Homo sapiens: one gene and its partner. The main gene of each other region encodes a partner of the protein of the gene in region 2 in a complex. Each region holds a gene or a part of one and is shown on either strand. Other genes may lie near its edges. The genes, in order: LSM11 and LSM10.

Region 1 (11,206 bases), on a different chromosome or scaffold from region 2:
ACCATGTTGGCCAGGCTGGTCTTGAACTCCTGACTTTGTGATCTGATTGCCTTGGCCTCTCAAAGTGCTGGGATTACAGGCGTGAGCCACCGCACCCAGCCATGCTGCATTTTAATTCAGCTTTCTGATTTCTGATTAGTTTAGGGAGATGGCTCAGCTTACTCTCAAATTTTTCTGGTTAATGTCTGAGAAACTTAATATTTTAAAGGTGAAATTGGCTGGCAATAAACTTAAGAGTCAGTGAGACCTAGATAGACCCCTCAATTCACTATTTATTAGTAGAGAGATTTTAGCAACTTACATAACCTCTCTGAGCTTTAGTTTCCTCACATATATCAAGGGGATAGAGTCTTCCTCTCATGGTGGTATCTGAACAAGGTAATGCATGTAATATGCTTAATGCAGGGATGAAATGTTATAAACGGACCGTGTCTCTTATTGCATGATCTGTTTTCTGCCTCTTCACACAGCGTGACTAAGTGAAATGTGGTGCAAGTTGCCAAGGATCAAAATGGCTCTTTATTATAACCTTATTTTTAAACATTTGAAGACCAGTATCTACTATTATCTCACATACTGTTATTCCTCTACACCACAGGAATAGGCTGCTGAAAAATTATGCTTGAGGTAGGGAGGGAAAGGCTTTTTGAAGGTCTTGGTGTGATGTGCGAGGAGCCTGACTAGCACTGCCCACCCCCCACTTCTGCCCGCCAGTATCTCAACCTAAAACAGGTTTTCCTCTGTTTATTAGAAAGTTCCCTCTGGCTCGAGCATATTTGCTCACGATCTTGGAGTGGAGGCTCAATTCTGGCCATAGAATCATAAGAGAGCTGCAACCTCTCTCACAAATGGGCTTTCAGGCAACATTGGGTAGAACTGAATTGTTTCAAAGTGAGACAGTTGCTAAGAAACAAGGGCTTTAAGAGAGGCTTCCCAGGGCAATCCCTTGGCAGCAGGTGGGAAGAGGCTGGATGGAGTTGACAGTTTCTGAGATGGAGTCTCAGGATGGAAGAGTAGTGAGAGACCCCTTAAACAGCAGACACTGAGAAATCCCGCTTTGCCACTCTTCCCCAAGCACATTCACTACCTGAACGCCATCAGTCAGGCTTCCCGAGCTTCGAATTAGGTAAATTCAATATTGAAAAGAAACGTTTATATTGCCACTTGGGTTGATTATAGCTTGTTTTTCCTTAATTAACTCAGTCCTGACTGGTGAGCATTTAACGATAAATTGTAGCAGTGACTGGAGACTAGAGACTCCGGTCCTTCTGGGACCTCTAGGTAAGCAGTTTTCTTTAACCCACTGCCACCTAGTGGTAACTGAGCAGACTGAAAAACTCTTCATCTATAACCAAGGAGAGAACGGTTGGCATTTTTTTCTGCTTGCCACTCCTATCTTGGAAGCACAGGGAGAGTGATCGATGTGTCTCTTTCCACTGGCCTCCACTCCCTGCCAACATTTAACTGTCACTGTACATTTACAGTGTCAAGCTAGCTGACTCTTTTGCCATTACTTTGATTAATTAGGACATTCTCATTTAATCAGAAGTATCTGAGATTCAAAACAAACAGGCAAGGACCAGACATACAGCACACGGGTCTTGCCTCCCTTTCTACTGCAGCAGTTAGCAACTTGGTGTGTGTCAGCTGGGCTCAAGTTAATGGATCCTTTAAAGTGAGAAACTGGGTCTTGACAGTTAACTTCAGGTTTCCCCCTCTAAGAATAAATGTGACTTTTCTTGTCTACCTTACCAGGTGATTCAGTTCTGGAAGCACACAGAAGAGATCCAAGTAATCAATGTGGCAAATCTGGGACAGCTAAACTTCCTGTACATGCACAGTGGAAAGCTGGTAGAAAATTTAAATATTTTTGGAAGAATGTGAAGATTGATTTGCCAAATGTGGTAAAACACTCAGAGGGAGCAGAATGAATGGTGATTTCAGCAGATCATGAACAGAATGGACTAGTGCCAGTGAGCTATTAGGTAGAATAAATTCACAGGGCAATTACCACTGCTTGCAGCTTAGAGGAGATAATTCAGAATGTGGGCCAAGTTCCTTTCCTAAGCATGAACTTCAAGTAAACTTGGAAGAAAAAAGCCACCTCAAGAGTGGTGTTTTATTTTTATTTTACTTATTTTTATTTTTTGAGATGGAGCCTCGCTCTATCGCCCAGGCTGGAGTGCAGTGGTGCAATCTCAGCTCACTGCAACCTTCGCCTCCTGGGTTCAAGTGATTCTCCTGCCTCAGCCTCCCGAGTAGCTGGGACTACAGGTGCCTGCCACCATGCCCAGCTATTTTTGTTTCCTTTTTTTAGACTGAGTGTTGCTCTGTGGCCCAACCTGGGGTGCAGTGGCATGATCTCAGCTCACTGCAGCCTCTGCCTCCCGGGTTCAGGTGATTCTCCTGCCTCGGCCTACCGAGCAGCTGGGATTACAGGTGCCCGCCACCACACCTGGCTAATTTTTGTATTTTTAGTAGAGACAGGGTTTCACCATGTTGGCCAGGCTGTTCTCGAACTCCCAATCTCAGGTGATCCACCCGCCTCGGACTCCCAAAGTGCCACGATTATAGGCGTGATCCACTGCGCCCGGCAAGAGTGGTGACTTAGATGTGTGGACTTTGGTAAAGAAAAGGTACAAGGTTACAATAATGTAAATGCAGAAGGCTTGAGATGGTCTAACTTTCTAGACAGGTGTCTTCACTTGGTAACAGACTCCCCTGCCTCCTCTCTCCCACCCCCCTAAATCAACAGAGACAAAGCAGCCAGGATATGAATACAGTTTATTACAGTTTTCAGACTCCCATTACGACACATATCTAAAGCTGAACATTGCAAACTGACCTTACTAGCAGCAATTCTCCCTAGACAGGAAGGGTTTCAGTTAATTTAGCAATTAGGAGTAAAGACAAACTTACAAGTCATGGTTTTTCTTGTAGCAGCTGGTATATGAGCAGTGAAACTATAGATACGTAGAGTCATTCAGGTTTAGCCTTGTCTAAAAAAACATTAATAAGTTATGGTGCAGAGGAGTATCCCCAGGGTTGCCAAAGAGAAGGCTGATGTCTTTAGATGTCAGTATGAAACAAGCAAATCACTTTCAAGACATGGCTTACTATTTGCTTTACTGTCAGGACAACAGAAAAAGAAGTGGACAGCTACCCTAGATTCTAGCTCACACATAATTCAGCCAGATAATCATCATTTAAATAATACCCCTTGAAATTTTTCAGACTTTTCACAGCTCTAAAAACACAACATCAGACATAACATCACACATTTGTTCCAAAGGACTAAAAATCAAAAGCAATTGCAAAGTATTGGGAATCACTTTTATGGCTTTCCTAAGGGACAGTCCCCATCTTTCCAAGGAGTGTTTTTAAAGAAGCACTAACTCTGGTAGGTTATCAAACTATTTTTTATTCTAAATAAATAAAAGACTAACTGAAGGTCTCAGGTGCACACTTATTTTTCCCCGCAGATCTTCAAACCATCCAGAACTATTTCTTGTCAGAGAGCTTTCATTTTTATTAGAGCAGTGCAAGATAACGTACAAACATTTGAAAAACACTCAAAATACTGAGAGTAAAGGAGGCCCAACCCTTCCTCAGGGCCCAGAAAACTGACAGGAACCCCAAAGGCTTATCTTAAATCCATCAACTCAATTTGCCAGAAAGTGCTGACAGACCACCCACCTTTGCAACACAGGGCTCAGGATTCTTGCATTTACAACCACTAAGAAAAGCCTTCTGGGAGAAGAAAAGCACAGACTGGTGAACATAAGTTACTGAAAAAGGGTTGACTGCATTCTATATCTGGCACAGGAAAAGAAAAATTCAAACAGCTGTGAAACCATTATATTTACACCACGATACTCTTACATGAACCTTGACTTTCCTACAGCAACAGTTTCATTCACAAAAAATACATAAAAGATTGGAAAGCTTTGGGGTAGCACCAGTGACAGCTAGCTGTCATTGAATAGTTTTAATTTTTTCCTAGAGGCAAAATTTAGAGAAAACTTAAAGAAGCAATTTATAGAAATGATTCTATTTCATGATTTTGCCTTTGTCAGCTGCTATGGAAATGGTGCAAGCAGAAATATAAATATCCATTCTGCATCAAGTAAGTTTCTATTTCTTTTTTCTCAAAGGGTAGAAATGGTACATCTCAATTTTTGTAAGGCTTCTGAGGATTAAGGGCAGCTCATCGCTCAGGACTTGACAATCTCTAAAGGAGCTCCTGGACTCTTTCACCACAAGGATAGATGGAGCCACTCCTATCCACAACTCATAGCAAGGATCTCTATGCATCTAGATTTTAATGCCAACGGTTTCTTGGCTTCCTGACTTGACATGCACCATGCACAAAGAGCAAGGTACTGACTGGTCTAAAGCCACTCTCCCCGGACACTGCTAACTCTAGCTAACCATCTCACAGACATCCTGCCTCTGATCATAAGATGGTCCCTGGAAGGAAGCATAAACACTTCCCAAATACTAGAACAGACAGCCCAAAGTGCAAGTTCTACTAATGGGAGAGTAAATGAATCACCTCTGTGTACAGAGAATGGCACAGGAAATTGTTATGAGTATAAAACCATATCTCCCCTTTCTTAATCACTTGTTATTATCTAACAAAGGTAGATACTTTTGAGAAGACCTCACCAACTACATAAGTATGTCCTATAAATTGTCTTGAAAACATATTCCCATGTTTAAAGATTACTTTGAAGAACCAAAGTTGAATGTTCAAAAATAAAAACTATTCTTACCAAGTTTCCCAAGCCCAAATCCCTGGAGAATTCTAGAAACCAGTTTTGTTGGTTTCTAGTATTTCAGTATTCAGTATTTCAGCTGCATCGAGCCCCCCTCAGGTGAGCTAGTGGGAGTTCCCCGACTCTATCATTATGTTCCTCATTTTCTTTCCTTCTCCTGAGGAAGTCTTCAGTTATTTCCATAGCAACTTGTGATAATGTCCTAAATGATCACATTTTTTGAATAGCACATATATTATTGGGACCTACTTTTTCTTTCTTTTAAACAATATCTTCGATAATAAAGAAAAGGGGACCGGGCGGGATAGCTCACGCCTGTAATCCCAGCACTTTGGGAGGCTGAGGCAGGTGGATCACCCAAGGTCAGGAGTTCAAGACCAGCCTGGCTAACACGGTAAAACCCCTTCTCTACTAAAAATACAAAAAATGAGTCAGCCATGGTGGCTGACCCAGCTACTCAGGAGGCTAAGGCAGGAGAATCGCTTGAACCTGGGAGGCAGAAGTTGCAGGGAGCTGAGATCGCGCCACTGCACTGCCTAGGCAACAAGAGAGAAATTGTCTCAAAAAAAAGAGAGAAAGAAAAGGGAGTAATCTTTAAAAATGAACTTCTGTTAAAAAGTAATTATCATGCTTTATACAAAACAGCACATTTACTAATTTACTAGATAGAATTCATTCCAGAACCACTGTCCAGACCAAACAAACAAATGGGAACATAGAGCACATAAAATAGATCATACACAGTTTAAACATAATTTTCATAGCCAGAATTGTCATGTTGGGCAAAAAATGGTAAATCAATCCTTATACGGCTATATGAAAATTATAGGTAAACATAAAAACAGGCATATGTTTAAGTCAGGTTAGATTTAACTAGGCACTGGAATGAATGAAAACTGATTATATTCCGTTGGATTCCAAATTTCTACCTTATTGGGAAAGTAGAGTACATCATTCTAGCCGAGGGATGAGAGGGCAGGCAGATGAGGATAGCCACACAGGTATACGCAGTGTTGCCTGATGATTAAACCTGACAACTATTTTGGGAACTGAGATTTCAGATACACTATTTAGAATTTAGACTGGCAGCTTCCAAAGATTACTGTTCACTTGAGTTTGTAAACTGGAACCTCTATAAACTTTAGTGCACCTGATCTGGCTCTAGAGTACACTTTACAATGCATTTAAAAATAAAAACAAACAAACAACAAACTTCCACAGATTGCCCTTTCGGGATGTGTCATTTTTAGATGCTCATTCTCCATTTGGTGCTACCATATAAACCCCTTGAAAAGTTCAGGGGATTCTTTCTGATAATGATCAGAAAAGGGTGAGGCCTGGGATATAGCGGGAGCAGCAAAAAAAAAGTTACTCTCCTCTTACTGAAGATACTCTTCTGAGAACTTCCATTGTCCCTTAGGAGGAAGGAATGGAATATGGAAGTTCCAGAAGATACTGCTGCCTTCCGAAGATAGTTACAACAGGATCATAACTATGAACCCTAAGATTACTTTTTTTTTTTTTCCTTTTTTTGAGACAGAGTCTTGCTCTGTCGCCCAGGCTGGAGTACAGTGGTGCAATCTTGGCTCACTGCAAGCTCCGCCTCCCGGGTTCACCCCATTCTCCTGCCTCAGCCACCCACGTAGCTGGGACTACAGGCGCCCGCCACCACGCCCGGCTAATTTTTGTATTTTTAGTAGAGACAGGGTTTCACCGTGTTAGCCAGGATGGTCTTGATCTCCTGACCTTGTGATCCACCCGCCTCAGCCTCCCAAAGTGCTGGGATTACAGGCGTGAGCCACCGTGCCTGGCTGAGATTACTTTTTTATGTAGCACCTGCCTTGCTTCTGTGTCTTATAAAGACACAGAATTCTTACAAAGCTATGAAACAGAGTCAGGAAAAATTACTCATGGCACTTAAAGATGTTTAGAGACTGTAAAATGCCTTCATTTTTTTTTTCTCAATGCCCCTGTGAGGTAGGTGTCTGTGGGGAAAAAGCTGAGGCACGGAGGGGTTAAGTCTGCTCACCTTTTCATTGCATGATGAGCCAGTGGTCCAGCTAGCAGGACCAGGTGTCCCAGCTCCCTAAACTTTATTCACCCTGCTTCTCAGAAGGCTTATTTATGTTACACAACAAATACAGCAGGGGAAAGTTTTCTTTTCATACATTTTAACTAGTTGGCTATTTCTTATTCTCACCTTGAACATAAGTTATCTCAGATAAAACCAAATAAAAACAAAACAAAAAAATCAATATTGCCTAACAGTCTGTGTCAAATGCAGCCTATTCTGCACTAGTGATTGAAAAAGCACAGAATATGATTCAAGTAGAAGTATTTGTGGGTGCTATGGTGTTCCTGTTGACTCAAGCCAGGCTGTGAGTAAAGTGTCGCTTTAGACACTACCCACTGTACTTTGTAAGAACTTCTTTGGCCTGACACAAGGGAATAAATCTACCACCCCTGTTTCATGGTGAAACCATATTCTGAAAGATATTCTACACATGCTGGCCCTGCCTGGAAAGGGGACTCTCAGCCGTGTGATGTGTATTACCGAGTTCATGCACAACTCTTTGAAGCTGGACATGAAGGTCACAGTCTCCTGACATAAAGCTCACAGGACAGTTCACACTACGGACAGAGGGGCAATACCACAGGGTACATGCACTAGCACCATGCCACAGAAGTCAAAGAGAAGGACAAGAAGCCACCACACAAGCATCTTAGAGTCCCATCTGGTATGCCATTTGCAGAGGCTACCTCTGGTAAGGGGAAGACTGAAGAGGTCCTGTACTCCTTTCCATAATAAGAAGAAGGATCAAAACAGAGCACTCATTGCTGGCTGCTTTGAGCATACCGCCTATCCAAATTTCACCCCTACATAAGTTGGTAACTTTCCTTGTAGATATTCAAAGATAATATATGTCATTTCTTCATCAAGAGAGAATCATGTCAGGCAAAATTCAAAAGTTAGTTACAAGACGTGGATGCAGGGCTCCAAGGCAATTTACACCACTACTCTTGGAATCGAATTCATGAGTACTCAGGGCACTAGCTTTTAGACATGCAATACTTCTTTTTGAGACTTTTCTTTCCCCTATAGTATCTAAAATGTAAATTCCACTCATATCATGACCCCTAAGTCTAATGGAAGATCAGATATTTGGTTTCAGGGTCTGAAGTAAATCACAATACCAAATCAGATGCATGTATCTATGAATGCTTTTTGCCTTGATATTAATGCAAACGCCTGCCCTCCCAAGGCCTGTCCTCCCCTTGAGCTCATCTTCCAGGGGGCTGAGCCTGCTCCGTCCTCTGCATATGCAGGACCAGAGGGAATCATTCCAACTCAGAGTTTCACTGGGATACTAGGATACAGCATAGCAGCAATTCATGCACTTTATTTCTAAAAACCAAAGCTCAGGCTGAGCTGGTCACTGTGCAAGATGAACCAGCAGGACATTCTCGCCTCGAATGAAAATCTGATTTATGTGTCGAGTGAATACCTGCTGGTAATCCACTTTGGGCTTTCGCTTTTTCTTACGGGACTGGCCTCTGGAAAGGGTGGTAGCCCTGGAAAAGGTACCTCCCACACTGGAGCCGTCTGTCCGTGTAGTCCTCCCTGACAGCTCTGACCTGGACTCCTCCCTTGCAGAGGCCTGCAGGGAAGAAGGGACAGAGCGGGAACGCTTGTGTGAGCCCCGGCCAGTGTCTGCTCTTCCCCACACTGAAGCCAACTTCCAAGTGGATGTCTGTGAGTATCTAGACAGAGTGGAATCTTCAACTGCAGACTTAGAATCTGCTTCCTTCTTGGAGGAATCTTGAAGTTTCAGCCGATCAAATAGCTATAAAGCAAACAATGATAAATATTAGCCTTCTCTTTAGCCTTCATCACCCTCTTTCAACATACAGAAAAAGACCAAATTCTTTAATTATGTTCTGTGGACTCCTTGCTTTGCAATTTTTTAAAAGTTAGTAATAAATCTTTTTTTTTTTTTTTTTTTTTGGAGACGGAGTCTCACTCTGTCGCCCAGGCTAGAGTGCAGTGGTGCGATCTCAGCTCACTGCGACCTCCACCTCCCAGGTTCAAGCAATTCTCCTGCCTCAGCCTCCCAAGTAGCTAGGACTACAGGCGCCTGCCACCCTGCCCAACTAATTTTTGTATTTTTAGTAGAGATGGGGTTTCACCGTGTTAGCCAGGATGGTCTCGATCTCCTGACCTCATGATTCACCCGCCTCGGCCTCCCAAAGTGCTGGGATTACAGGCATGAGCCACCACGCCTGGCCATAAATTTCCTATTTCTAACTATAATGCACATAATACATATGTCAAGAGAAAAGGCTTATTTCTGTGGTATAAAGCTGAAAGACTTTCAGGTGTTGTAAGAGACAACTTGCTCCTCAAATAATATGCAGGTTACAAGCACAGACTCACTTGAGATTCACTGGAAGCATGAAAAGAGGAACTAAGGAATACCTTGGTACAGGCACAGCTGGTTTATAGCAACAGAGATTTCCCTCTAGGAAATCCTAGTCACTGGGCTCAGGGATCTTAATTCCTAAGCTGGAAAGCATGATGGCTACTCAGGAGGTCAGGGGAAAACTGCCTACCCTAGTGAGAGTCAGTGAAGAATCCCGTTCATATGCTTTGCCTAGGACAGGTTTTCGGTAGGTCTCATCCACATCAGTAAGTGCCTAGAGGAACAGCCCAAAAGGAAAAACATTAGACAGAATTAAAATTATTATTTGTATAGCTTTTTCAGGGAAAAAAAAAAAGGCAGAGTAACATCTATTCAGAGCAGAACTACACTTAACAGATGACTCAGCTCCTAGGCAGAAGAAAATGGTGACACCTGGTACCTTCTGTGTAATATTTTTAAGCTGCTATCACCATATAAGATGGGTTTCACCTATGGATGGTAAGGGCCTTTATGACTGCATGGTAGAAGGTCTTAAATTTCAGTGTGCAAGAATATCTAGGAGGTTTATTAAAATACGAACCCAAAGCTATTCTGCTGGAGATTCTGTTTTGGTAGGTCTGGGATGAAGCCCAGGAACCTTTTGTTTCAACCAGAAGCCCCAGGTGATTCTGATGCAGGATGGCTTTAGATCCCACTTTGAGGAACATTACTGCTTCTTTACCCGCTTCAGTTTCTATGTCTTATGAAAGCAATTAACAGAGATTAACCAGGGTTACACACAGAATTGCTGGTGAGTTCTCATCACCGAGAGCAACCTCGACAGGACAGCTGTTAGGACCAAATGAGAAGTACAAGACAAATTCCTTTGAAAAGTGTAAATCACCCTACAAATAGAAGCTGACAGTACTGTTATAATCACCACTATCATCTAACACATTCTCTTCAATTCTTCAAAGGTAAAAAGATCATAATAAAACATTTTTCCCTGCATTTTGGAAATGAGAAAACTGAGGCTCAGAGAAATTATCTTGCTTACAGTCACACAGTTACCAAGTGATGATGCTAGGATTCAAATTCCCTAATGGTTAAAAACATGGTTTTAGGAGTTAGGCCGAGGAAAAAGTTTGGCACTTCCACTTACTAACAGTGTGATCTGCGACCAACATTCCAATCTCTCTAGAATCAATTTCTTCATTTGTGAAATGGAACAGTAATAGTACCCACAACTCATTCATTGAGATAATATATGAAGCCCTCAGTATAGTACCTGGCACATAGCAGGTACTCAATATATGTTAGCAGCTACTGTTCTTATCCAGGAGGATGCGTGGATGGGGATAAAGCACAGGGAAAAGGAAAGTTGGAGATAGAAGACCATATGGAAAAGAAACACCAGAAAGCTCTGGTGGTTCTTTTTTTTTTTTTTTTTTTTTTGACAGAGTCTCGCTCTGCCACCCAGGCTGGAGTGCAGTGGCATGATCTCGGCTCACTGCAACCTCCGCCTCCCAGCTTCAAGTGATTCTCCTCCCTCAGCCTCCTGAGTAGCTGGGATTACAAGCTTGTGCCACCATGTCTGGCTAATTTTGTATTTTTAGTAGAGATGGGGGTTTCCCTATGTTGGCCAGGCTGGTCTTGAACTCCTGGCCTCAGGCGATCCGCCTGCCTCGGCCTTCCAAAGTGCTGGGATTACAGGTGTGAACCACCGCGTGCAGCCTAGTAGTTCTTAACTACCTCAAATTATAGTTGTGCTATTACATATCCCTTCTCTCCTACAAATGTCTAGAAAAAAAGTAAGCCTCTAGAAGGCTAGGAAGTGTGGCACACTCCCTCATTATAAAACCACCATGTGGCCGGGCGCAGTGGCTCATGCCTGTAATCCCAGCACTTTGGGAGGCTGAGGCAGGCGGATTACCTGAGGTCTGGAGTTCAAGACCAGCCTGGCCAACATGGTGAAACCCTGTCTCTACTAAAAATACAAAAATCAGCTGGGCATGGTGGCAGGGGCCT
Region 2 (11,594 bases):
AATTCCTGCTCCCACAGGTGCAGGAATGTGTGTGCCGAGCTCCCACACCCCAGGGGAGGAGGGCCCAGGATACTGCAACCTCTCTGCTTCAGGAAACAGCAACAAGACTAACAGCCTCTTCAACAAGGACTCTGAATAGAAAAGCCATTTTCCACCTGACCAGACTGAAGTACTCTCCTACCATTCTAAAACTGCTACATATTAGAATTGCCTGGGAAATTAAAAAAACTCATAGCCCTCAGACCATACCCCATACCAATGAAATATGAATCTGTGAGGGTGGGACAGGTGATTCCAACGTGCAGCCAAGCTTGAGTCTGCCCCCGACTACACAGGACGGCCTGGGAGCGCAGCACACAGAAGGGAAAGCCTGGGGCACGGACCTGTTTGTATCCAAGTTGGGTTTCATGAGAAAATGAACACAACTGCATGAGAAATGGAGACACTTAGAGGTGGCTCAGGCTGAGCATGTTTAATTATCCTCACTGGGAGAGTTGAAAACTACTTGACAGGTTCCATAATCAATAAGTCAGAGATTCAGATCATCAAAAAGGGGGATTGTCACCTACCCCAAGGCCACATATAGGATTCTGGGTCCCAGAGTGAGTCTGGGAGGTGGAACCCTGTGAAAGGCAGCTTTGACAGGTGGTGTCTGTTGGACACCAGCTTCTGGCCTGGCCCTGCTTTCTTCTCGGGTACCAGACAGGGTGTGAGGGCAGGGAACTAGCTCCGGAGATCACTGGAGGACTCCGAGTTGGGGCCAGGGCTTGCTGAGGGCCTCACTTACAGTTTTTTGGGGGAAATTCCCACCGGCCTTGGCCCTTGCCACCAAAGTTTCGCACCCGATGGATAATCTGCAGCTGCTGCTCAATGGTCGAGGTGATGTTCACGTCATCTGGGATGTGGACGTAGCGGACATTGCGGCCTGTCACAAAGAGGTCATCCAGCTTGACCTGATGCCCCCAACGGTCCGTGTAGGTGACTTTGGCCAGGCGGATGTTCATGAAAGCATCGACATTGTCTATGCGTCCGTGGGCCACGCTCTCATCCCGCAGGTCCACAGTGGTTACCCGGCCCTGGAGGCCCTGCAGTAGGATGATCAGGCTGTTCTCAGAGATGGTCCGCTCCTTCACTGAATGGCTCACCGCCATTCTTCCACACCAGCTGCCTGCTTGCTGTGGACAGGAGCACACAGATGGCAGCTATAGCAGGGTAGGGGGTACAGTTGCCAACTCACCTCCACCAGGTTCTCAAACAAAATTCCCAGCACAGACCACCTCTGCAATTTTTGTATCTGTGGACACAGATGCTTCCCGCACATGTCTCATAGAATCCTCACACCAACTTGCAAGCCAAGGATTACTTATGCTCATTTTATGAATGAGAAAAATATGGCTAGGATGGCCAGGCGCGGTGGGATACACCTGTGGTACTAGCTACTCAGGAGACTGAGGTAGGAGCTTCACTTGAGCCCAAGAGCTCTGCTGACCTGCTTGGGCAACATAGCAAGACCCCAACTCTGATTTTTTAAAAAAACCTACAAGAAGGCTGGGCATGGTGGCTCACGCCTGTAATCCCAGCACTTCGAGAGGCTGAGGCAGGCAGATCACGAGGTCAGGAGATTGAGACCATCCTGGCTAACATGGTGAAACCCCGTCTCTACTAAAAATGCAAAAAAAATTAGCCGAGTGTGGTGACAGCGGGCGCCTGTAGTCCCAGCTACTCGGGAGGCTGAGGCAGGAGAATAGCGTGAACCTAAGAGGCGGAGCTTGCAGTAAGCCAAGATCGCGGCAGAGTGACTCCGTCTCAAAAAAAAGAAAAACCTATAAGAAAACGGTGAGCATTGGCCGGGCGCGGTGGCTCACGACTACAATCCCAGCACTTTGGGAGACTGAGGCGGGTGGATCACCTGAGGTCAGGAGTTCGAGACCAGCCTGGCTAACACGGTGAAACCCTGTTTCTACTAAAAATACAAAAAATTAGCCAAGCGTGGTGGCACATGCCTGTAATCTCAGCTACTCGGGAGGGTGAGGCAGGAGAATTGCTTGAACCCAGGAGGCAGAGGTTGCAATGAGCCAAGATTGCGCCATTGCACTCCAGCCTGGGCAACAAGAGCAAGACTCTGTCTCAAAAAATAAAGAAAATGGTGAGCATTTCTATTGGGTCAGAGACAAGAAAAGGATGCCTTTTATGGCTTCTAATCAACAGTAAAATGTAGGTAATGGTCAATGCAATGTTCAAAAAACGATTACGGAAAGAAGGGAAAGAATTTAGAGAAACAATAATTATAAAGGAAGATCACTGTCCTTGTTGGTCAATTATAAATTATATGATTATCTACATTGAGAATGCAAGACAAATTATTAGGACTAACAACAAAAGTCTGTATCATTCCTAATAATACATTAATTTTAAAAAATCAATAACTTTAAAAAAAGAAAAATATGGCTAGGAGAGGTAACTTGCCCAAGGTCACAGTAAATAAGTGGAATTGCTGGAATTCAAATCCGTAGCCACAGGCCGGGCGTGGTGGCTCCCCGCTGTAATCCCAGCACTTTGGGAGGCCAAGGTGGGTGGATCACTGGGGCTAGGAATTCAAGACCAGCCTGGCCAATATGGTGAAACCCCATCTCTACTAAAAATACAAAAATTAGTCGGGCATGGTGGTGAGCACCTATAATCACAGCTGCTCCGGAGGTTGAGGCAGGAGAATCGCTTGAATCCGGGAGGTGGAGGCTGCAGTGAGCCAAGATCACGCCACTGCACTCCAGCCTGGGTAACAGAGAGACTCTGTCTCAAAAAAAAAAAAAAAGAAAATCCATAGCCGTCTGGCTCCAAACCTCACACCAGGTGTGCATTAGAATCATCTGGTGAGTTTTTAACCCAACCTCCCCACCCCAGAGATTCTGATTCGTTTGGTTAGAGGGGTGGGCCCAGGTATCCTATTTTGTAAAAGCTCCCGGCTGGGCGCGGTGGCTCACGCCTGTAATCCCAGCACTTTGGGAGACCGAGGCGGGCGGATCATGAGGTCAGGAGATCAAGACCATCCTGGCTAACATGGTGAAACCCCCATCTCTACTAAAAATACAAAAAAATTAGCCAGGCGTGGTGGCGGGCGCCTGTAGTCCCAGCTACTCGGGGGGCTGAGGCAGGAGAATGGCGTGAACCTGGGAGACAGAGCTTGCAGTGAGCTGCAAGTGGAGTGCCACTGCACTCCAGCCTGGGCAGCAGAGTGACTCCATCTCAAAAAAAAAAAAAAAAAAAAAAAAAAGAAAGCTCCCCAGATAACTCCAAAGTGCTGAGGGGTACTGGTTAGAAATGCGCAATCTCAGGTCTCTCCCCAAGCCTGTTCTGAGATAAAATCCACTCCTTCACTGAGTGGCTCACTGCCATCTTCCACGCTGGCTGGAAACAGACTGCATTTTAACATGACCCCCTACGTGAATTAGATACACGTTAAGGTTTGAGAATCATTGGTTGACACCAGTAGTTCTCAAACATTAGTGTGTATCAGAATCATCTGAGGGGCTTGTTAACTCAGCTTGCTGGGCCCCACTCCCAGTTTGACTCAGGTCTGAGGTGAGGCCCAGAGATAAAGTCATTTTGAACATGTTCCCAGGTGATGCTGATGCTGCTGGTCAGGGGCCCACACTCTGGGAACTATTGGTCTACACCATGCAGCTGTTATGTAAGTAGAAATTAAGGTAATGAGGCCGGGTGCAAGGGCTCACGCCTGTAATCCCAGGATTTTGGGAGGCCAAGGCGAGTGGATCACCTGAGGTCAGGAGTTCAAGACCCGCCTGGCCAACATGGTGAAACCCAGTATCTACCAAAAATACAAAAATTACCTGGGCATGGGCGCACCTGTAATCTCAGCTACTTGGGAGGCTGAAGCAGGAGAATCGCTTGAACCCAGGAGGCAGAGGTTACAGTGAGCCAAGATTGTGCCACTGCACACCAGCCTGGGTGACACAGCGAGACTCTCAGAAAAAAAAAAAGAAAATAAATCTGGATAATGAATTGGGGAAAAAAACCCCCAACCGGTATTATATAAGGTACATAGGTTTTGAAGGTAGAGAAACCTAGGTTGGAATCCCCACTCCACCCCTAATTATGAAAACCTAGAAAAGTTAATGTCTCTGAACCTGTTTCCACATTTATTAAACTACAGGAGAAACAAAGCTACCAGAATCACACTCCACTAAAGGTACTCTCCTTTGATTTCAACATGCCCTGATAATGTATTAGTGCACTATGTCTTACCTATCCCTTATTTTCAGACCTGAGTTAAAGGGGGTGGAACGCTCTCTCTTTACGACCTCACTCAGCATCCCGTCCAGGGCTGTGCATTGTGGCACTGAGCGTGGCAAGCCAGACTAGGCCAGTGACGAGGGGGCCTGGGAGCTAGGTCCCTGGGCATGGCCTAACGACCAGCCACCCGGCTGCAGCCTGATGAATCTGCGATCAAGCAAAGGTATGGGGCTGCTGCTGCGACTGCAAAGAGCAGTCACCGGACCTCGAGTCAGGCCCGGGTTCTAGAACAGGCTTTGCCACCTCCTAGGAGGGCGATCACTTAGCAAACCACTTAGCTTCTCCAAGCTAGCTAAGCTACCGGTAAAACGGGATGAGCACCGCTTACTCAGAGCAGCGGGAGCGGGTCTGGGGAAAGGAGCTATACTCGGTAAATGGGGAAGAAAACGCTTCCTGGGCTCCGGCACCTCCTTCCGGAGGTCCTGGCATCCCCCGCATTCCGCCCCGGGGCTCCCTGCACCGCCGACCCGGACCCACCACGCGACATTCCTTCCGCTTTCCCCGTCTGGGTCGCCGCCGAAGCTAGCGGGCGCCTGGACTGGCTGCCTCCCGCCGGCTGCAGCAGGACGGAGAAACCATGCCGGCGACCGGGCCGCTCTGTCCTCCGGGCGCAGAGTGCGTCAGTGCTCTGCAAGTCACCGCGTCACGGAGAAACTACAATCCCCAGAATGCTTCGCGGCGCGGGGCTCGTGCTCCGCAAATCCCGGCCTGCGTCATTGGAGTCTCTTTCACTAGAGTCGTTCATTCATTCCGCACGCATTCATTGAACCGGCGACCTGGGCCAGGCTCCTTCCCAGGCTCCGGCATGGAGCAGTGACCAAGATCAAGTGGCTCCCTGAGCTGATGGCGCTGCAGGGGAGAGAGTCTTAAGAAAACAAAGAAGAAAAATAGGGAAAAATTTCTTCAGAAGATTAAAGGTGTGATGTGATGGTGACAAGGTGGTCTTTTATTGGATTGTCAGGGGTGCCCTGAGAAGGTGACATTTGAGTTGAGATTAGTGACATGAAGCCAAGCTTGTGAAAACTATGGGAGGAGCATTGCAATTAGCGGGAACAGTTTGTTAAGTAAAATTTATAGGAGGCAGGGCCGGGTGCAGAGGCCCACACCTGTAATCCCAGCACTTTGGAGGACAAGGCGGAAGGATCACTGGAGCCCAGGAGTTCGAGACCAGTCTGGGCAACAATGGGGAGACCCTGTCTCTACAAAAAATAGAAAAAATTAGCCCACCGTGGTGGCGTACACCTCTGGTCCCACCTACTTGGGAGGCTGAGGCAGGAGAATTGCTTGAATCCAGGAAGTGGAGGCTGCAGTGAGCTCAGAAAGTAACACTTCATTCCAGCCTGGGCAACAGAGCAAGACTCCGTCTCAAAAAAAAAAAAAAATTGGAGGCCATTGGTTTGAACAGGGCTCCTGCACCAAGCCCAACAGAACCAAAATGGAGTCACTCATGCTAAAGTTCTACATCACCAAGTGGAAACTAAGTTGTTTATCTGATATTCCGATAAATCAGAAGAGTGAGAGATAGCTAGATCTCCAAACCATCCTGTTTTAGCTGGCAGGATAAGGAAGTCCCCTCTGCTTTAGCCTTCAAAGTTACAAGGAAAGTAACTTTGAAACAACCAATCTTTTTGTTTTCTGTTTCTGCTTTCCTCAGCCCTTTTCTGGCTGTAAAACCAATCTCCTCTGCTCAGCTCATTTGAACACTCATTCCATTTTATAGAATGAAGTGTTGCCCGATTCTAGAGTTGCAAATAAAAGTCAGATTTAACAAATTTGGCAAAAAAAAGTCAAATCACCAATTAAAAGTTAAATTTTTTCTTTTCACAGTTCATGCAAAGAACCTGGGGGAAATGACCTTGACAATTTAGGAACACAGGAAAGGCCAGGGAAGCTGGGGAGAGTGGTATAACAAGAGGCCAGAGAGGAAGCAGGAACCAGAGCATATAGGGCTTTGTGAGCCAAGGTAAGGAGTTTAGATTTCATGGTTAGGAGTGCAGCCTCCGGATACAGTGCCTAGGTTCAAATCTACTCCTGGCTAATTGTGACTTTGGGCAAGTTAGTATCTTCTCTGTGCCTCAGTCTTCTCATCTAGTACTAGAAGTGCTATGACAGGCTATTGAAAGGGAGCGAAGTGATTTGATTTACTTGTAGAGACAGGTTCTCACCCTGTCATCCAGGCTGGAGTGCAGTGGTGTGATCATAGCTCACTGCAGCCTCAACTACCTGGGCTCAAGTGATCCTCCTACCCAAGCCTCAAGAATAGCTGGGACTACAGGCACACGCCACTGTGCCCCACCTGATTTACATTTTTTAAAAGTCACTCTGTATAGCCTTGGAAAAATTACTTTCTTCCTCAGCCTCAATTTGCTTGTTATGAAAACAAAAAATTAGGCCTTTCTCAGAGAACTGTAAGATTTAAGTGACCTTCATTAATGTGTGAAAGCATCTGGCACAGAGAAGAAGCTCAGTAAATTAGGCTTCTTGGCTGGGGGTGGTGGCTCACACCTGTAATCCCAACACTTTGGGAGGCCAAGGCAAGAGGACTGTTTAAGCTCAGGAGTTTGAGACCAGCCTGGGCAACATAGTGAGACCCCATCTCTAAATTTTTTTTTGTTTTTGAGATGGAGTTTCACTCTTGTTGCCCAGGCTGGAGTGCAATGGCCTGATCTCGGCTTACAACCTCCGCCTCCCGGGTTGAAGCAATTCTCCTGCCTCAGCCTCCCAAGTAGCTGGGATTACAGGTGTGCACCACCACACCCGGCTAATTTTTGTATTTTTAGTAGTGACGGGGTTTCTCCATGTCGGTCAGGCTGGTGTCGAACTCCCTACCTCAGGTGATCTGCCCACCTCGGCCTCCCAAAGTGCTGGGATTACAGGCGTGAGCCACCGAGCCCGGCCAAAAATGTTTTAAGAAATTAGCTGGGTGTGGCCGGGCGCGGTGGCTCACGCCTGTAATCCCAGCACTTTGGGAGGCCGAGGCGGGCGGATCACGAGGTCAGGAGATGGAGACCATCCTGGCTAACATGGTGAAACCCTGTCTCTACTAAAAATACAAAAAATTAGCTGGACGTGGCGGCGGGCGTCTGTAGTCCCAGCTACTCGGGAGGCTGAGGCAGGAGAATGGCGTGAACCTGGGAGGCCGAGCTTGCAGTGAGCTGAGATCGCGCCACTGCACTCCGGCCTGGGCGACAGAGCGAGACTCCGTCTCAAAAAAAAAAAAAAAATTTAGCTGGGTGTAATGGGTGCACCTATAGTCCCAGCTGTCACAAGAACCTTAGGGTGTCACTCTGCCATCTGGAAACCTCTGTGGCTAGCAGCGCCTGTGCTTGACTTTTGCTTGTGCCTGCTGGGCTCGTTCTGCCTGCTCAGTCTGGCAGGCTGGGCTCAGCTTGCACTACGGGCTCGGATCCCACGCCTGCCAAAGGCGTGCCAGGTGTGGAGCAGTGAGGGATGTGTGAGCGAGTGAGCACAGGGTCCGACCACTGCACACAGCCAGATAGGCCGGCTGCTGCAGCGGGTGGGCAGCTCCAAGGGCCAGCACTGGCAGCTCCAGGCGCCGGCACAGGCTTTGGCTCTGTGCAAGGCTGCGGCTGGACCAGACATACCGTAAGTGGCTTCTGCTGTGGGCACCAGCATCTGGACAAGGGGAACACAGTGGTGGCCGAAAGCTCAGAGACACCAGGAACCACAGAGCCACAAAGAGGGTGTTACAGTGTGTCACAGCCCTGGCTTGTGGAGCCCGGAGGTCTGGGCCCCAAGAAGGGCTGCAGCTCTTCACCACACGAGGAGCAGGGGCGGGGCATCTTGGGGGGCGGGGGCGTGTTTCAGTCCATATGTGTTACAGCTCTTTCAGTCCTACCGCTCAGTGCTGCCCTGCTCTGGCCCGTGGTTCCTGGGCTGGCTAGGCCCAGCCACCGCTTCCTGTCATGTGGCACAGCTACCCGCTGGTGGAGGGTGGGCCCCCGGAAGGGTCACCACTCTTCACTCCTGCAGTCTGGGAGTGTGTCACCACCCGCAGCTCAGCGAGCTGGCCAGGAATATGTTATACTCCTTTTACTCCCGCTGTTTGGCAGGTCCCAAGTTCTTGTTTCGCATCCAGGAAGAATGAGGTTATGTGGATAACTGGAGGGTAAGCAAGCTGGAGGGAGCTTTATTGAGTGATAGAACAGCTCTCGGGAGACCTGAAGTGGGTGGCTCCTTTCCGCAAGCAGGTCCTGTGGAGTGTCTGAGACTGGCTGAGTCTGGGGTTTTCATGTGCGAAGAATGGAGGAAGTGCATGCTGGTTGGCCCATGGGTGGCCATGGGTGGGCCTGGAAAAAGTACCATCCAATTGGCTGGAAGGCATCAATGAAGTTCTTACTCCTGTCCTGGGTTCCACCTGGAACTGGCAGCCCCACCCCCAGGCTTCAGGCCACCCCTGGCTTGAAGGTGGGGCTTCACTGGGCATCTGCCCCTTCTGCCTAGGAACCTGATTGCCTCCTGGCACTATTAACGTGCTGTCTGCTGGTGCCCAGATTGCCTGTGCTGGTGGGAGCCTGCAGGCCTGCACCAAGCCACCCTCAGTCCCCTGGCCTCCATCACATGCTTATTGGCACCCAAAGTCTGGGGGGGTGCTGAGGCAGCGGGGGTTGGTGTGTCAGTGTCGCCCACAGTGCACGCACATCAAGCTGGGTCACAACAGTGCCCGGGCTTAGCCACAACTTTGCTCTGCACTGGAGTGGGCGCCAAGAGTGGGGAGACTCCAGGGAGTGGGAGCAAGCACTTCTGAGCCTGCGGGGGCAGGGGCTTTCTGGGCCCTCAAGAGCACAGGGATGCCCGGGTCTGGAGCCATGGCTGGGTTGCTGCAGCTGTGCCCAGGAGTGAGGGCTCCATGCCCCGTCAACTTGGTAGGGTGTGGGGCTCCTGCTGGCATCATCTGTTTCTGGCCCCTGCTGGCTCCACAGAGCACGTAGCCCCAGCTGCACCTCTGCCTGGCATGAAGTGGTTGAAGCTGGCTGCTCCAGATGGGCCGCTGCTGCCATCACAGCTACGTGGGAGGCTGTGGCTGGAGGATCTCTTGAGCCCTGGAGGTTGAGGCTGCAGTGAGCTATGACTGTGCCACTGCACAGTGCACTCCAGCCTGGGTGACAAAGACCCTGTCTCAAAAAAAAACAAAAAACAAACAAAAAAAAGAGGCTTCTTTCATTCCTTCACTCTCTCATTCATTGATTTCCATCTCTCCTAGGAGGCTTCCCTTTTTATCAGCAATCACAGTTGGGCTCTTCTTATTCTAAAAATAAAATTGTCTTTCTCCTCCATGCAATCTACTGTTTTCTTACTTTCCACAGTCAAACTTCTCAAAAGGCCCTTATGCCAGCCTTTCCGCAAGTATGATCACTTTTCCAGCTATCTATGTGAGACTGGATTTGCTTCTCTTCTTTTAAATATTCAGTCTCCATAGAGACTGTCAAAAGTTGCCAATGCCGACTATATTGCAAGTTTTCATGGCTGGGTGTTGGGATTTTTCAGTGAGCGAGAATTGTGCCGCAGATAAACCTCATTGTTGATAATACTGCTACTTACATAAGTTTTAAACTTATGTTAGTGAGTTTATGTTTATATATATATATATACACACACACACACACACACTTTTTTTTTTTTTGAGACAGAGTCTTGCTCTGTTGCCCAGGCTAGTGCAGTGGTGTGATCTTGGCTCACTGCAATCTCCATCTCCCAGGTTCAAGTGATTCTTCTGCCTCAGCTCCCTAAGTAGCAGGGATTACAGGTGCGTACCACTATGCCTGGCTAATTTTTGTATTTTTAGTAGAGACAGGGTTTTACCATGTTGGCCAGGCTGGTCTCGACCTCCTGACTTCAGGTGATCCACCTGCCTCGGCCTCCCAAAGCACTAGGATTACAGGCATGAGCCACTGTACCCAGCCTATATTTTTTATATATATATATATATATATATATATATATATATATATATATATGTAAATGTATGTTAGTGAGCTTATATATTTTATGTATATACAAATGTATGTTAGTGAGTTTATATATTTTATATATATACAAATGTATGTTAGTGCATTTATATATTTTATATATAAATGTGTTAGTGAGTTTATATATTTTATATATACAAATTTATGTTAATGAGTTTATATTTTTATATATAAATTTATGTTAGTAAGTTAATATATTTTATATAAAATTTATGTTAGTGAGTTTATATAGTTTATAAATTTATGTTAGTGAGTTTATGTAACTTATATACATACATATTTATGTTAGTGAGTTAATGTGAGTTTATATAATTTATATATATAAATTTGTTAGTAAGTTTATATATTATGTATATACAAATTTATGTTAGTGAGTTTATATATTTTATATATATAGAAATTTATGTTAGCGAGTTTATGTTAGTGAGTTTATATAATTTATATATATAAATTTATGCTAGTGAGTTTACATATTTTATTTTATTTATTTATTTGTTTATTTATTTATTTATTTATTTTTTTGAGACGGAGTCTCGCTCTGTCGCTCAGGCTGGATGGAGTGCAGTGGCGCCATCTCGGCTCACTGCAAGCTCCGCCTCCTGGGTTCACGCCATTGTCCTGCCTCAGCCTCCCGAGTAGCTGGGACTGCAGGCGCCGGCCACCAGGGCCGGCTAATTTTTTTTTAATTTTTAGTAGAGACGGGGTTTCACCGTGTTAATCAGGATGGTCTCGACCTTCTGACCTCGTGATCCACCCGCCTCGGCCTCCCAAAGTGCTGGGATTACAGGCGTGAGCCACCGCGCCCGGCCAACATATTTTATATATATATATATAAATTTATGTTAGTGAGTTTATACATTTTATATATATATAAACTAATGCTGGTGAGTTTATATATTTTATACATGTATATATATAAATTTGTGAGTTTATTATATATTTTATATATAAAATATGTTAGTTTATATATTTATATATAATGTAAATTTATGTTCATGAGTTAATTTCTGAATGAATTAATATTACATTTTTATTTTAATTTCCAATATGACAGAAAATACATATAACCCACATAATCTGTCAATCATTTTGAAGAGTATGTAGAGGTTCCAAGACCAAGAAGAAGTTTGAGAACTGCTGCTGTACAGTGAGGCTTCCACTTTCTTTCTTTTTTTTTTTTTTTTTTTGAGACGGAGTCTGGCTCTGTCGCCCAGGCTGGAGTGCAGTGGCGGGATCTCGGCTCACTGCAAGCTCCGCCTCCCAGGTTCACGCCATTCTTCTGCCTCAGCCTCC

What was found.
Region 1: LSM10 (region 2) and LSM11 share a complex: the UniProt entries of both Homo sapiens proteins name them as parts of the heptameric ring U7 snRNP complex.

Annotation. Positions count from the first base shown.
Region 1 is NC_000005.10:157,752,271-157,763,476, reverse strand, and holds the end of LSM11 (U7 snRNA-associated Sm-like protein LSm11), read right to left. Parts: intron 9,474-11,206; coding exon 9,390-9,473; intron 8,624-9,389; coding exon 8,213-8,623; 3' UTR 2,768-8,212; downstream 1-2,767. UniProt on the Homo sapiens protein: Component of the U7 snRNP complex that is involved in the histone 3'-end pre-mRNA processing. Increases U7 snRNA levels but not histone 3'-end pre-mRNA processing activity, when overexpressed. Required for cell cycle progression from G1 to S phases.
Region 2 is NC_000001.11:36,392,979-36,404,572, forward strand, and holds LSM10 (U7 snRNA-associated Sm-like protein LSm10), read right to left. Parts: upstream 4,931-11,594; 5' UTR 4,789-4,930; intron 1,176-4,788; 5' UTR 1,152-1,175; coding exon 780-1,151; 3' UTR 458-779; downstream 1-457. UniProt on the Homo sapiens protein: Appears to function in the U7 snRNP complex that is involved in histone 3'-end processing. Increases U7 snRNA levels but not histone 3'-end pre-mRNA processing activity, when overexpressed. Required for cell cycle progression from G1 to S phases.